2 separate regions of the Homo sapiens genome follow, and region 1 is linked to region 2. Evidence: fine-mapped expression QTL. Tissue or cell type: whole blood. Region 2 holds a variant in brackets; the other region holds the start of a gene. All regions are shown on one strand. Distances are from middle to middle.

What was found. PIP is the estimated chance that this variant, and not a neighbour inherited with it, causes the effect.
Region 1: SPDYC starts here. The variant in region 2 is fine-mapped to the expression of SPDYC in whole blood (TOPMed, PIP 0.97).

The regions. Positions count from the first base shown.
Region 1 is chr11:65,165,892-65,173,891 of GRCh38, forward strand. It overlaps SPDYC (speedy/RINGO cell cycle regulator family member C), which reads left to right and starts at 4,342. Exons shown (of 7, transcript NM_001008778.3): 1 at 4,342-4,370; 2 at 5,436-5,608; 3 at 6,052-6,110; 4 at 6,355-6,440; 5 at 6,543-6,714; 6 at 6,793-7,123; 7 at 7,292-7,483. The coding sequence starts at 5,467. The coding sequence ends at 7,326.
Region 2 is chr11:65,059,482-65,067,481 of GRCh38, forward strand. It overlaps a transcript of NAALADL1 not described here and a transcript of CDCA5 not described here. Among named protein-coding and RNA genes, the nearest start is that of NAALADL1, 4.9 kb to the left of the region's middle. RefSeq lists a silencer at 7,276-7,570. The variant G/C (reference allele first, on the strand shown) is at 3,765.

The sequences.
Region 1 (8,000 bases), 110 kb after region 2:
TAGAATGTCGCAGTCTTTCTGATAGTTGCTCTCGACCAACCCCAGCCCGGATCGATACTCCTTTCTCCCCTCCTTCCCCAGCTTTTCTTGGCACAAAGCCTCGTGCCTGGGAGAGGCCGCAGCGCACGACGGCGTGCGGGGATATGGTCGCTTTCTTTTTATTTACATTTATCTTGAAGTTTGGACCTTCTCTGCTTTCAAGTTATGCCGACGCTGTGGTTTTGGCAGCGTTTTATTTTTCCTTTCTTGTTGTCTGGGGCTGTGTGGACAGCAAAAGTTGGCGGATGGGGACCCAGGCAGCCCCTTGGGCCTCAGGACCCGGAAGTCCCCCTGGCTGGCTTGTGACTTTTTAAGATGGAGTTCAGTTCATCAGCGTGACAGCTTTTCTTATTTTCTAACACGCGCGTTTGAGGTCATAAATTCCTCTCTAAGAATTACTAGTTGTGTCCTCCAACTTTGACAGACAATATTTTCTTTCTTTCTTTTTCTTTTTCTTTTTCTTTTTTTTTTTTTTTTTTTTTTTTTTTTTTTTTTTTGAGACGGAGTCTTGCTCTGTTACCCAGGCTGGAGCAGTGGCGCGACCTCCGCTCACTGCAACCTCCGCCTCCCGGGTTCACGCCATTCTCTTGCCTCACCCACCTGAGTAGTTGGGACTACAGGCGCCCGCCACCACGCCCGGCTTTTTGTATTTTCAGTAGAAACGGGGTTTCACTATGTTGGCCAGACTGGTCGCTAACTCCTGACCTTGTGATCCGCCTGCTTCGGCCTCCCAAAGTGCTGGGATTATCGGCGTGAGCCACCTCGCCCGGGTACATTTGATTAATTTTTAGGAAGATGTTCTGTGCGTGCTTTCCTGCCTTTGTTGGGTGCAGTGCCAGCTTATTCGTCCACTAGGTCAAATTTCTTCATCATATTCTTCATATCTTTTACTGCTTTGCTAACTTTTTTGCCTTGCATGTGCCATCATATCTACAATTATGATTGTGATTTGTTTTTCCGTGTGGTTCTGTTGATTTTACACACACACACACACAGACACACACACATGCGGTTTCTTGCTTATTGACTTTATTTTTAGGAGTAAACAAATTACTATATATTTTTTTCTTTACCTGGATTCTGGTTAGGTAATTATACACTTTTTTTTCTTCCTTCCTTCCCTCCCTCCCTTCTTTCTTTCTTCTCCTTCCTTTTTCCTTTTATTTTTCTCTTCCTGCCTCTTTCCTTTCCTTTATTTTCCCTCCCCTCCTTCCCCTCCTCTTCTTACCGACAGGATCTCCCTATGTTGCCCAGACCAGCACTACAGGTGCACACCACCACATCCGGCTGTATATTTTTAAAATCACTACATAAATTCTCTTTCTCCCTAGTTATGCTTTTTGTCCAAAGTTGTGTTTTTTTGTTTGTTTTTTGTTTTTTTTTTTTTTTGAGACAAGTTCTCACTCTGTCACCCAGGCTGGAGTGCAGTGGTACAATCTTGGCTCACCAAAACCTCTGCCTTCTAGGCTCAAGCGATTCTCCTGCCACAGCCTCCCAAGTAGCTGGGATTACAGGCATTCGCCACTACCACCCACCTAATTTTTGTATTTTTAGTAGAAATGGAATTTCACCATGTTGGCCAGGCTGGTCTTGAACTCCTGACCTCAAATGATCTACCTGCCTCGGCCTCCCAACGTGCTGGGATTACAGGCATAAGCCACCGCGCCCGGCCTAAAGTTGTTTTAATATATTAGTGTAGTTATCCCAGCTTTCTTTTAGTAATTGCATATTATTTTTTCTATCTTTATATTTTGAAATTTTTAATATTCTTATTTATTTATTTATTCATGTTTTAGAGACAGGGTCTTGCTGTGTCACCCAGGCTGGGTAGAATGGCATGATAATAGCTCACTGCAGCCTTGAACTCCTGGGCTCAAGTGATCCTCCCACCTCAGCCTCTTGAGTAGATAGGACTGCAGTCACGTGCCACCATGCCAGGCTAGTTTATTTTTGGTAGAGATGGGGCCTTGATGTATTGCCCAGGTTAGTCTCTAACTCCTGAACTCAAATGATCCTCCTGTCTCGGCCTCCAAAAAGTGCTGAGATTATAGGCGTGAGCCAATGGACCTGGCCATATATATATTTTTTGAGCTGGTAGTATGTTATTATGTTTTATGTGTATTCTTTTATATCCTTTTACGTGTATCCTTTATAGCATGCAATATTAATATATGATTTTACAAATTATATATACATTTACATGAATATAAATTTTATAAATAGTATATTAGTTAGCATAGAATAAATTTTGCTGTGATAATTGTAGCAGGCAGAATAATGGACTCCCAAAGATGGCTACATTTCACTTCCCAGACCTGAGAATATGTTATCTCACATGGCAAAAAAGACTTTGCAGATGGTTAAGGATCTTTTTTTGAGACCAAGTCTTGCTCTGTTGCCCAGACTGGAGTGCAATGGCATGATCTCAGCTCACTGCAACCTCCACCCCCAGGGCTCAAGCAATTCTCCTGCCTCAGCCTCCCGAGTAGTTAGGATTACAGGCATGCACCACCATGCCCCGCTAATTTTTGTATTTTTAGTAGAGGAGGGGTTTTGCCATGTTTACCAGGCTGGTCTTGAACTCCTGACCTCAGGTGATCTGCTCTCCTCTGCCTCCCACAATGCTGGGATTACAGGGGTAAGCCACCTCTCCCAGCCAAGTTAAGGATCTTGAGATGGGGAGATTATCTGGGCAGATTGAAGAGCCCAGTGAATCATGGGATTCTGAAAAGTGAAAGAGAAAGGCTGGGCATGGTGGCTCATGCCTGTAATCCCAGCATTCTGGGAGGCCAAGGCGGGTGGATCATGAGGTCAGGAGAACAAAACAAAACAAAAAAATTGCCAGGCATGGCGGCACATGCCTGTAGTCCCAGCTACTCGGGAGGCTGAGGCAGGAGAATTGCTTGAGCCCTGGAGGTGGAAGTTGCAGGGAGCCGGGATTGGGCCACTGCACTCCGGCCTGGGCAACACAGCGAGACTCCGTCTCAAAAAAAAAAAAAAAAAAAGTAAAAACAAATATTCTCCCCAGTGTGGGAGATCGGTGTCAGATCTCCAGGGGTGGCACTGAAGGAAATCAGCCTGAAGGCCCTCCCAAAGTTAAAGTGACTAGCCCACTCCCAGGCTTCTTTTTGGTACACCTTCCTGATCTCTAACCTTAATTACTGGGGGAGGAGGAGAACAGTTGAAAACACAGCTGGTCTAGGAGATTCATTCGGTTTCATGGAACACCTTCTCTGTGCAGGCAGCGTCCAGGAACAGCTGTAGACCACACAGCCAGGCTACCCAGCGTGTGGGCCCAGCAGCCAGGCTGGAACTCTATCTCTACTTACCAGCTGAGTGGCTGGCAGGAAGTTACTCAGCCTGTCGGTCAGCAACCCAAACTCTGTGTGTTAGTTGTTTGTTCGCTGACAAAATGAGGCTTCTCATCATTCTCATCAACTTCACGGGCTTGCTGTGAGGAACACGTGAGCTGATTCCATCACAGACTCCTCAGTAGGCAGCAGTAGGTGTTTAGTGAACGGGCTATGGATGCTGCCCCACTCACTACTTCCTTTCTAGGGGAGGCCGACTTCAAATGCGTGCACACACACAAACAGGATGGCCTGATGCAGACCAGCTGGTCTAGAAAGGCCTTCACGGCCTCAGGGAGCCTGGGAGGCGGCCTGGGGGAGACCATGAAACAGCAGATACACCAGAGACCAGAGATCAGAGAGAAAACAAAGGACCCAGAGATCCACAGACATCCAGACACCAGAGGCAACAAGAAACTGAGAGACTCAGAGGCCCACTGAGACCCAGGCAGCTTGTTCTGTGTTACGAGGGGAAAAATAAAATAAGAAACAAAAGAGAGACTCGGGGGGCCTCAGTGAAACCTAGAGACTCAAGGAGGCCAGGAGATTCAGAGACACCCATAGAGAGCCAGAGACCCTGCCCTAGCAAGGCACAATCAATGAAAAAAAACTCGCCCACCAGGCCCTCGCAGTCCGGGTCTCATATCCCGGCTCAGCACCTTGGCGCTGCATTTGTCAAGAGGGGAACAGGGATCCTAGCTCCCTGCCTGTCCTATGGGGCCTTAGGCCCTGGGGTCCAGCTGGCCTGCCTTCACCCCTCTTGTAGTTGATGAAGCTTTGGAGAGGCTTTCAAACCCTGGGGAGCCACAGCTGGGTGCCGACTGGACTCACTGGCAGAGAGGCAGGCGGTGAAGGCCAAGCCTCGCCCCCCAGGAAGGCCCTGATTGGTGGACGGGCTGCTTTGGGCAGGGCCGCCCTCAGGCTATATAAGCGCACTCGCGGCGGCGTTGGTGTTATGCTCTGGGCCATTCCTGAGCTCGGGTAAGGCTCGCTGCAGGAGGAGGCTGGGTTGCTTGCGGGCGCCTAGATGGAGGGGCCCAGATTGGCCCTGGGGTGGTCGACCGCACGTTCTCCTCGGCCCCGTGGTTGGCTTCTCTCTCTCAGGGATGAGGGTGGGTTTAGGACGGGAGCTTGAAATGTTTGAAGTGGCCCCATCAACTTGCTCTAAATCCAGGTATTTTTCTAATTTCATTCCTCCCTGAGGGCCTCAGTTTCCCCTCGGTGTAAGGGATCAGTGGCCCTTTCAACTCTGCTTTGGTGAGGGGTCGGGGGTGGTTGTGAGTTGGGGCCTAGAGGAGCAGTTAAACTCTTGGGTTTTTTTTTTCTTTTTTTTTGGCCAGGCGCAGTGGCTCACGCCTGCAATCCCAGCACTTTGGGAGGTCAGGAGTGTGAGACCAGCCTGGCCAACACGGTGAAACCCTGTCTCTACCAAAAAAATACAAAAAAAATTAGCCGGGCGTGGTGGCATGGCGCATGCCTGTAATCCCAGCTACTCGGGAGGCTCAGGCTGGAGAATCAGTTGAACCCGGGAGGCGGAGGTTGCAGTGAGCCGAGATCGCGCCACTGCACTCCAGTCTGGGCGACAGAGAGAGACTGTGTCTCAAAACAAACAAACAAAAACCAAAAAACCTCTTGGGGTTTTGGAGACCAAGGGCTTCACTTTTAACCGGCTGTTAGGCCTCAGCTTCAGTTTCCTCGTTTGACGACCGGTCTGAGTTAAACTTACCTCCTTACCAGGATGGAATAAGATAAGGCCCTTAAGCACAGCCCCAGGCACTTAGGAAGCCCTCAGCGGTGCTTGTTGCTGCTGTTACTCTGGCCTGTCCTGGGGTGCCAGGAGGAGGGTGAGGGTGCCACACCCTCACCTATAGCAACTCTTTGCTTCTTTTCTGGCCTCCCCACTCTTGTTGCATCCCGGCTGCCTTCTGTTCTGAGCCCCCAAGTCTCTGCACCCACCCCTCCACCGTCCTGGCCCCTGTCACCACCCTCTTGATTTGTGAGCATCACGGGGGTACATGCTAAGTCCTGAGCCTCCTTTCTCTACAGGTCACCCTGCCCCATCTCCATCTCCTATGAGATGAGTGACTCCCAAGACCCCACCACTTCCCCTGTAGTTACCACCCAGGTAGAGCTGGGGGGCTGCAGCCGGCAAGGTGGGGGCAATGGGTTCCTCCGTTTTCGCCAGCACCAGGAGGTCCAGGCCTTCCTCAGCCTTCTGGGTGAGTTTGGAGGGCTGGCACGGGAGGGGCCGTGAGGTCAAGTGTGAAAGCAGATGTGAAGTGTGGGGTCTCACCTGCCTGTACAGACATCTGAGACCTCTGACCCTCTCCCTCTCAGGTATCCCAGCTTAGGCAGGTGGGAGGGGTGTCCTCTCAGAAACTGGATTCAGGGCCAGGCACCGTGAGTCATACCTATAATCCCAACATTTTGGGAGGCTGAAATGGGAGTATCACTTCAGGCCAGGAGTTCAAGACCAGCCTGGTCAACATAGTGAGACTCCATTTCTATTTATATTAAGAAAGAGAGAGAGAAAGAGAAAAAGGGAGAAAAAGAGAAAGAGAGAGAGGGTTCAGTGGTGGCTTGGGCTTTGGAGCTTCTGATGCCACTCTTCTCCATGGAGGTGGTGGTAACCTGCGTCCTGTCATGTCTTCTCTACCCTCAGAGGACAGTTTTGTCCAGGAATTCCTCTCCAAAGACCCCTGCTTCCAGATTTCAGATAAGGTGAGGGAGTACAGGCTGGGGGTCTCTTGAGGGTCAGGTTGAGTTGGTGGGAATTGAGTGCCCTGGTCTGGTAGGGAGAGCCACTCACCTTCCATCCTTACCCCCTCATCTTTGCACACCACTTCCCACCATTTTACTGACTTTCTTTCCCTGCAGCAAAACCTCCCTGGGTGCAAATGAACCTGGGTGCAAGCCCCTCCTCCTCAGAGAATAACTAACCCCCCACCCCGATCTGTCTCTGCAGTATCTCCTGGCCATGGTGCTGGTCTACTTCCAGCGCGCCCACCTGAAGCTCAGCGAGTATACCCACAGCAGCCTGTTCTTGGCCCTGTGAGTGGTGGGGGCAGGCAGTGGAGGCATTTGCTGGAGGTGTCAGATGGGACAGGGCAGATGTGTGGCCTCTGCTCCCTGACCTTGTGCCTCTGTGGCTAGGTACCTTGCAAACGACATGGAGGAGGACCTGGAGGGCCCCAAATGTGAGATTTTTCCATGGGCCCTGGGAAAAGATTGGTGTTTACGAGTGGGGAAATTCCTGCACCAGAGGGATAAGCTTTGGGCACGGATGGGTTTCCGGGCTGTTGTGAGCCGCCAGTGCTGTGAGGAGGTGAGGCTGGGAGGCAACCTGGGGTGTGGGGAAGGCTGGGGTTCCCACCCCATTTACTGTCCACTCTGCTCCTCCCAGGTCATGGCAAAGGAGCCATTCCACTGGGCTTGGACTCGGGACCGGCGCCCCCACCATGGTGGGGTTCAGAGGGTCTGTCCACAGGTCCCTGTTCGCCTTCCCCGGGGCCCTGGCCTCTCGCCGCCCCACTGTTCCCCCTGTGGTTTGCCCCAGCACTGCAGCAGCCACTTGCTTAAGCCTGTGTCATCCAAGTGCCCTTCTCTGACCTCTGAATGTCATCGCCCTCCCTCCCAAAATTATCTCTCAAGGGTCAAAAACGCCTGGGGTGGGGACTTTCTCATCGTCTTGCCTCCCCAGATGCAACTGGAACCAGGCACCTACTCCCTCCGCAGTGAGTGCAGGATGGGACAGGAGCTGGGGGCTGGTGTGGGAGCTTGGGAGGCAGGAGTGAGGACCAACAATATGAGAGAGAGGGCCATGGGCCTGGGGTCGACGTGCTGCCCCTCCCGTGTGAGCTTGGCAGGTTTCTTCTCTGAGCCTCACTCTTTCCTCTCCCCAGTCTTCCCAAAGCCTCCGGCACGCCCTGGGCACTGAAGCTCTGCAGGGTGAAGAACAGCACGCCTGCTGGCCCACTGACTGACACACCATTGGCTGTGCTCCCACCCCTGCCCCTTCCTCCCAGCCTGCAGCTTGTGCCCACTCTGGTGCCAGTCCCCTCTAATAAATTCATGTCCACAGGACACCAACTGTGCTTAGGTCCTGGCCTGGTTCCTTGACCCAAGGTTGGGGTGGGGAGGGGGTATCTACCAGGGTTACAACATGTGAGCACAGGCTCTGTAACAGCTTGGCCCCTTCCCATTGGTGGCCAGTTATTCTGAGCCTCAGTTTCATCTCTGTGCTATCCATGCCTATGGATGATGAGATCTACACAGTCTAGATGGGATTAAATGAGATGAGGTATCTGCAGCCCTTAGAAGAGGGCCAGGGAGCCGAACGTGGTGGCTCACACCTGTAATCCCAGCACTTTGGGAGGCTGAGCCGGGTGGATCACTTGAGGTCAGGAGTTCAAAAACAGCCTGGCCAACATGGTGAAACCCCTTTGCTACTAAAAATACAGAAACTAGCCAGGCATGGTGGCAGGTGCCTATAATCCCAGCTACTCGGGACGCCAAGGTGGGAGAATTGCTTGAACTGTGGAGGCGGAGGTTACAGCGAGTTGAGATCATGCCACTGCACTCCAGCCTGGACGACAGAGTGAGACTCTGTCT
Region 2 (8,000 bases):
CCTGAAGGGAGCCCAGCGATACGAGGAATGGGAGTCCTGGGAAGGGAGGCTGTCCCAGAGGAGGCAGCAGGGGAAGCCCATGCCTCCCTGGCGAGGTGACTTCCTCTTCTATCCCCTGGCTCTGCCTGGACTCCGTCATCCACCCTCCTATTTATCCATCCACCCATCCCTCCATTCACTTATTCATTCCTTCCTTTATACATGCAAGCACTGTTCATTCTGTGCTATACTAGAGCCATGCAAGGCTGTGGGGAAGCAAAATCCAGCAGGCGAGGCAGACAGGCTTTAGGTTCAGCCATGTGGTAAGTGCCCTGTAGAGGGAGGATCACCATGCTCCCAGTGAAAGAGTGAGGAGTTCTGACTAGGAGGGAACATCTGAGGGGGTCCTCCAAGGCTGAAAAGGTGTTCCAGCATTTGCAAGGGCTGAGAGGGAAGTGAGACCCCAAGTATGCCATACACATACTGAGCCTCTTCCAGACCTCACGGAGAGCCAGGAGGGGCTGGGGGGGTCCCTAGGGACTTGAGCTGGGACTTCTCCCACCCTCCCATGGCCTATCCTGCCTTGACTCTGCCTCGCAGGTTGCAGCCCATGGATGGGCTCAAAGATGCCTGCAGAGCTTGGGGGCTGGATCAGGGCAGAGCGTGTGTGTGTGTGTGTGTGTGTGTGCACGTGCATGTGTGTGTGTGTGATTTCACAGACCCCTCTCAGAGCAGCCTCCTTCCTGCTCACAACCCCATTTTGCTGGCACCACCATCTCTTGTGCTGCTGGTGAGGAGGTTCAGCATGGGAGGACTAGGGGTGGCTGGGAAGGGATGTCATGTGATCAGTGACTTCAGGGAGGTGCACCAGGAAGCCACAGTTCTTGGCAACGTGATTATCGACGCCCAGAATATGACCTTGGATCTTATCAGAAGCCCATCGGTGCAGGGAGCATACACCTTCCTTATGAGGACACAGGACAGTCACCACCAGGTGGGGAGTGGGATGCCAAGGTCAGCTGATAAGTTGAGGGACTGAGGCAGCAACCCCATGGTCCTACCCCACCCACTCCTGGAAGGATTTAACCCCTCAATCATGTGAAGTCACAAACAGGACGCCTGGACAAAAGTGTGTGACATCTGAGTGATAACACCTGGGACTGTGGTTTGTGTTGGAGAGTGTGTAAACAGCTGTGTGTGTGACACCCAAGAGATCCACTCAGGCTGTTGGAATCCACTGGTGTCTACATGGCTGTAGGCACCAGACGTTAACTTAGTCAATTTTCTTTCCTTCATCTTTGCTGTGTGGGTGGTATGGCCCCTCCCAGAACATTCTGGATTGTGGGAGTTCCTAGAAATAACTTACGGTAGTTAGAGCACATGAACACCTTTCATTTTCCTGCCTTATTCTCCCAATGGCTCTGGGTCCAAGGGGTCTTCAATCCTCCAGGACCAGCAATGCACTGCTGCTGGCTCCCTCCCCACTCTCCACCTGCCCCACACACTTGCCTCCGTCCCACCCTCCTTCACCTCCCACGTGTACTCACCTTGCCCAGTTTGAGGCCCTGGAAGCCCTCTTAACCCCCAATCCTCTCTGCTTTGGTCACATCCACTGGGAAAACACCATTCTGGTTACTTCTGACTCACTTTCTGCTTCTTCTGCGCCTGCACCCTTGCCCCTGGATGTGCCTGCAGAGTCACGTGGCCTCCCGGACACCATGTTGTGAAGACACTCAAGCAGCCCTGTGGACAGGCCTCATGGTGAGGCGCTAAAGCCTCCTGCCAACATTCAGCACTAACTTGCCAGCCCTGTGAATAAACCAACTTGGAAATGGGTCCTCCAGCACCAGCCAAGCCGTCAGAATACAGCGGCCCCTGCTGGAATCTTGACTGCAGCCTCACGAGAGTCCCTCAGCCAGTACCACCCAACCAAGCCACTTTCAGATTCTTAACCTGTGGACACTGTGTGAGATAATACATGTTTATGGTTTTGGGCTACTAGGTTTTGGAGTGATTATAACCGAGCAAAATAGGCCAGGCGCGGTGGCTCACGCCTATAATCCCAGCACTTTGGGAGGCGGAGACGTGCGGATCATGAGGTGAGGAGATCAAGACCATCCTGGCTAACATGGTGAAAGCCCGTCTCTACTCAAAATACAAAAAAATTAGCCGGGCGTGGTGGCGGGCACCTGTAGTCCCAGCTACTCTGGAGGCTGAGGCAGGAGAATGGCGTGAACCTGGGAGGCAGAGCTTGCAGTGAGCCGAGATAGCGCCACTGCACTCCAGCCTGGGTGACAGAGTGAGACTCCGTCTCAAGAAAAAAAAAAAAAAAAAACAAAAAAAACCACAGCAAAATGGAGAACCAATACAAATGACTAAATATAGACCAGAAACCCGCAAGTATATGTCTCCAATCTAACCCATCCCCGAACTCTTGTATTTCCAGCTGCCTAATTTTTTTTTTTTTTTTTTTTTTTGAGACAGAGTTTCGCTTTTGTTGCCCAGGCTGGAGTGCAATGGCGCGATCTCGGCTCACCGCAACCTCTGCCTCCCAGGTTCAAGTGATTCTCCTGCCTCAGCCTCCTGAGTAGCCGGGATCACAGGCATGCGCCACCATGCCCAGCTAATTTTGTGTTTTTAGTAAAGATAGGGTTTCTCCATGTTGGTCAGGCTGGTCTCAAACTCCCAACCTCAGGTGATCCGCCCGCCTTGGCCTCCCAAAGTGCTGGGATTACAGGCGAGAGCCACCGTGCCCAGCCTGCAGTGGCCTCTTAACTGGCCTCTCTGATTGTATTCTTGTCCCCTCTAGTTTTTTTCTCTACATAGCAGTCAGACTCATCTTTGTGAAACCCAGGTCCGCCATGTCACGACCGTGCTCACAGCCCTCCAAGTCTCCCTTTACACTCAGAGTAACAGTCATGACAGTGGCCATAGAGCCCTTCATGTCTCAGACCCGGTCCCCTCCCTGTCCTCCTCACTCACGGCTCCTGTAGCTCTGGCCTGCTACTGTCCCCTGAGCCTACCAGGCACACTCCTGACTCAGTGCCTTTGTGTTGGCAGCTCCCGCTCCCTAGAACCCTGCTCCCCAGCTGTCCACAGGGCTCCTTCCCTCAGGTCCTTTGTGTCTTTGCTCAAATGTCACTTCTCAATGAGCTCTTCCCTGACTACTCTATCTGAAATTGCATTCCTGGCTGGGTGCAGTGGCTCATACCTATAATCCCAACACTTTGGGAGGCTGAGGCAGGAAGATCGCTTGAGTCCAGAAGTTCAAGACCAGCCTGGGCAACATAGTGAGAATCCATGTTTAAAAATACATAAATAAAATAAAATTGCATTCCTCCCCCTCCCTCAGGCTTCCTCTTCCTCTGTGGCTTCATTTTTCTCCATTGCATCTATCCTCATGTTACTTGTTCATTATTTCTTGCTGCCCCTCCCAGAGCGTAAGTTCTACCAGGGCAGACATCTTTGTTTTATTCACTGCCGAAGCCCCAGAGTCCAGAGCAGTGCCCGGCACCTATGAGGCACTCAACAAGTATTTGTAGATTGGAGGCAAAGCTGACCTACGCCAGCACAGCAACTCAACACTCCTGCTCCAGCTGTCTTCTGTCCAAGGGGTGTTCAGAGCAATAAGAGATGTAAAAGGTGGGCACGAGACCCCTGGGAAGCAGATCCCCTCTGGGTAAGCCCCACCAGACTGCCAAGGCAGCCATGCATAGGACACCTGCGTAACAGGCGCAGGTGCCCTCACAAGATGGGGATGGGATCTAACAGACTTTCAGTGCTGG[G/C]TGTTCCCAAAGGATGACGTTGCAGGATGGAGGAAGGCCCTGCCAGGCTGCAGGGTCTGGCCACCCTCTTGGGCAGGAATACCAGGCCCTTTAGTGGGGAAGGGAGCCTGCTGGGAACACTGGTACTCAGAGCTGCTCCCACTGGGCCTGCAAAGCCAGTTTGGGGGCCAGGGTAGATCCACTGGAGATCAGATAACAGTCGCCAACACATGGAATGCACCAAGTCCACACAAAATCATTCATCCTCCGAGGTGGACACAGTGGAACCCCATGTTACAGATGAAGATGTGTGTCCAGGCACTCAGTCAAGGTCACACCAGACAGCAAGGGGTGGAGCTGAGAGTAGAATGCAGCGCCTGCACATTCACGAAGCTATCCCACCTGCCATCACTAGGCAGGAGAGAGGCATCCCATTCTGCCCCTCACTAGAGAAATGGTGCCAGCCAGACAGAGGAGGCTGATTTGCTAACCCAAGCCCAGTGCCTTGATGACAGAGGCCCAGGAGGTGTGGGCACAGCTTGTGACTCACATGGTAGCCTCCTTTGACTGGGAGAAATGTGTGTGAATGAAAGGACCAGGTAACACCCTGGGGCCCACGCAGCTTTGCTGTGGGACCTTCCTTGACAGGAACCTCTGGGCTGGGCTGGGACTGCTTGGATGCAGTGTCAACAGGAGTGGCTGCAGGGACTGACCTCAGGACAGCCAGTGAAGGATCCCTGAGCTGCAGAACCATGGCCAGGATGCATTCGAATCTATAAGCACTTCTGTGGTTTGGAGCTGGTTGGGGAGGGGGCTCCGTAATAGACTCCATTTCCTGCAGCCAAGCAGTATTCATGTAACCTTATTCGAGCGCTGTCCCAGGCTGAGACATAATTAAATAAAAGCATAATTAGCCGGGTGCAGTGGCTCACACCTGTAATCCCAGCACTTTGGGAGGCCGAGGCAGGTGTATCACAAGGTCAGGAGATCGAGACCACCCTGGCTAACACGGTGAAACCCCGTCTCTACTAAAAATATAAAAAACTAGCCAGGCATGGTGGCGGGTGCCTGTAGTCCCAGCTACTCGGGAGGCTGAGGCAGGAGAATGGCATGAAGCCAGGAGGCAGAGGTTGCAGTGAGCTGAGATTGCGCCACTGCACTGTAGCGTGGGCGACAGAACAAGACTCTGTCGCAAAAAAAAAAAAAAAAAAAGCATAATTAGTCTCTCTCTGTGTCCTTTTAAAGGAAACATCAAATGGGACCATGCTGATGACTGCATCTTATTGACAGAAGTCCTTAAATGGGTAATTGATTTAGCTGTTGATCCAACTACCATCAACCTCAGTACCCTATGATTCCCTTTGGGAAAATTGCAAGACAGCTGTTTGTACAGCAGGGCCCCTGGTCAAGGACAGGTCAGGAAGTAGGTGGTTGGGGAGGTCTGGGATCCCTACAGCCATCGGGTGAGGAGGGTAGAGTCTCAGAAGGGGTGGGCTGCTAAGTCAGAGATGTTAGTCTGGGAGCGGTAGCTAATGCCTGTAATCCCAGCATGTTGGCAGGCTGAGGCGGGAGGATTCTTTGAGCCCAGGAGTTTGAGACCAGCCTGAGTAATATAGCAAGACCCTGTCTCTATTTATAAAAATAAAATGTAAAAATATGAAGAAAAGAGATGTTAGCTCAGCTCAATTCAGCCTGAAGCTGGGGCAGAATCAAATAGTCACTAATCAAGCACTTCATCAGTTACTTTGCCCAGGCCTGATCCCTAGGAGTCTGGTGTAAGTCAAACCAGGCCTGGGGAGAAGCCACAAACCTGAATTTCCATCCTCTTGGCTGTTGTCTCCCTACAGTGAACATAAGGCAAAATGATCATCCCCAGCCCGTTCCGTGTCACACGAGGATTAACGAAGGAATTCTGCATGGTGGATCTTTTACCATCCATTAGACCTAGATGCTGTAAAGTTAGAGGTTACTTTACAGAAAACTGATTAAGATGCAAAATGATTTCTGCCCAGTGAATAATACAAGCCTTAGAGTTATGGGACTTTTTATTTTATTTTAAATTAAAAAAAAAATTTTTTTTTGAGATAGTGTCTTGCTCTGTCGTCCAGGCTGGAGTACAGTGGTGCCACCTTGGTGCGCTGAAACCTCAGCCTCCCAGATTCAAGTGATTCTCGTGCCTCAGCCTCCCAAGTAGCTGGGATTACAGGCACGTGCCACCACACCTGGCTACTTTTTGTATTTTTAGTAGAGACCAGGTTTTCCCATGTTGGCCACACTGGTCTCAAACTCCTGACCTCAGGTGATCTGCCCACCTCGGGCTCCCAAAGTGCTGGGATTACAGGTGTGAGCCACTGTGACCAGCCCGGGTTATGGGATTTTAAAAATAAATGCCCTTTAGAATATTAACCAATTTTGTATGTAATTTAGCAATCTTCTATCAGGATTCCTTGCTTTCTCCCCCTTGACTATATACGTGTCAGTTTTTTGTATTCTTTTTTGCAACCCCATTGGTGGAGGGGGGTTGGGGGCTCCCAGGAGGCCCTGGGCCAGAGGGCTCCTGGGTTGGAGGTGAAACTCAAAATCGATATGTATCTCCAGGCCTGAGGGGTATAGGATGCGGGCCCTTGGGGAGTTGCCACCACCTCTCTCTGCCCCCCAACCCCATGACTTACAAAGGGGAAGGGACTTTTCCAAGGTCACCAGATGGTTAGTGGCTCTTCCCCTATCCCTCCCCCGCCTACACCCCAGTATCCTTCTGCACTTTGGAGTTAGAGCAGGTACCCAGATCCTCCGGGGAGGGACTGCGGCCCCTTTCTGGCCTCACCCCAGTGCTTATCTTGGGAACATCGCCCTTGAGCTCTCATCTCCAGGCTGACAACAACCAGGCCTGGAACCTTCTGTGAGGGGTCGGGGGAGGGCAGGGCCATGTCGGGGAGGGGTAGATGCAGAATGGGTGAGCTGAGGGAGTGGGGGTGATGTCAGAGGGTGGCTGAGGGGCTGAGCTCAGTGTGGACGTGGTGACCTCCTGCTCCCCACCTGAGCCCAGGGCCCACAGACACTTGGTGAAGCTGAAGCTTAGCTTCCAAGTTTATTTCTGGGATCTAGGGAGGAGCTGGCTGAAGGAGCGGCCTCCCGAGGAGGTGTCCGACCTCTGGCCTGGGGCCTGGCCAGGCCTGACCCTGGTCTCTGTGGTCGTGGGGCAGGTCAGGCAGCTTGAAGAGGAGACCTGCCTTCCGGGGGTTTGGGTCACTGCAGGCAGAGACAGCTCGAGTGAGCAGCATGGGGCAGCCGCCTCTTCCCTCCCCGCTGCCATGGCTGCCCGCACACCTGAGCAGAGCCACCTCCGGCAGGGCCTGGCTTTCCTCCTGCAGGGCCTTCACTTCATCCTGGATGGCCTGGGCCTCCTCCTGGATGGCCTGGGCTCCCTCCTTCAGGCTCTTATACAATAAGGTGGGCTGGACAAAGGGTTGCAGGGCTCGAGGTGGGTAGCCAGCCATGCAGGACAACCCGAAGCCCCTCTAGGAGAGCTGGGCTGGGAGGCAGGGAGGAGGCAAGACAAAGAAATGGGGTCCTGGCTCAGGGTCTTACCAGGTTCTGCAGCTTCTCCCCCAGGGCCAGGTTGTGCACTTGGGTGGTGTTCAGTGACTCCCGAAGCCTAGGGTTGAAAAACAGACCCCTCCCACCTCAGCCAGGCTTTTGTTCCAGGCAGCACTCCCCACCCCTCCCACCTCCTGCTTCAGCCACCTGGTCCTATAGCCACCTGGGACCAGTGTTTCAGTAAGAGCCCAGTCTTCCTGTCCCGGCAAAACCACAGGTGGGATGGGAATTGTTCTCCCTGAGTGATTGGTAGCAGGGGACCGAGAGAGAGACTAATTATGCTTTTTGTCTTCCTTTGCAAGAGCAGGGCAGGCTGCTTCTGTGGGTGGGCTAGAAACCCTCTGAGGCTCCCCTTGGAAGGGGTGGGTGGTATAGGGCTAGCCGCTCCTTTGGGCTGTAGGCAGGGTTGCAACAGGATTCTCTGTGGCTCCAGGCCAGTGACAGGGCCAATGCTGGAACCAGCCCTGCCTAGGCGCTCCAGGTCAGCTGTGTATGAATGGGAGAGCTGATCACTCAGGTCTATGGCCTGGAAGCCTCCGTCATGCCCTGCCCCCACCTCAGGACCTTTGCTGACAGATGGGGCTCTGACCCCAGCATTACCTGAGAGGGGCGAGCGGCCATGGGATTGTGTGGACCCCAGCTCCAGAGCCCGACATCCAG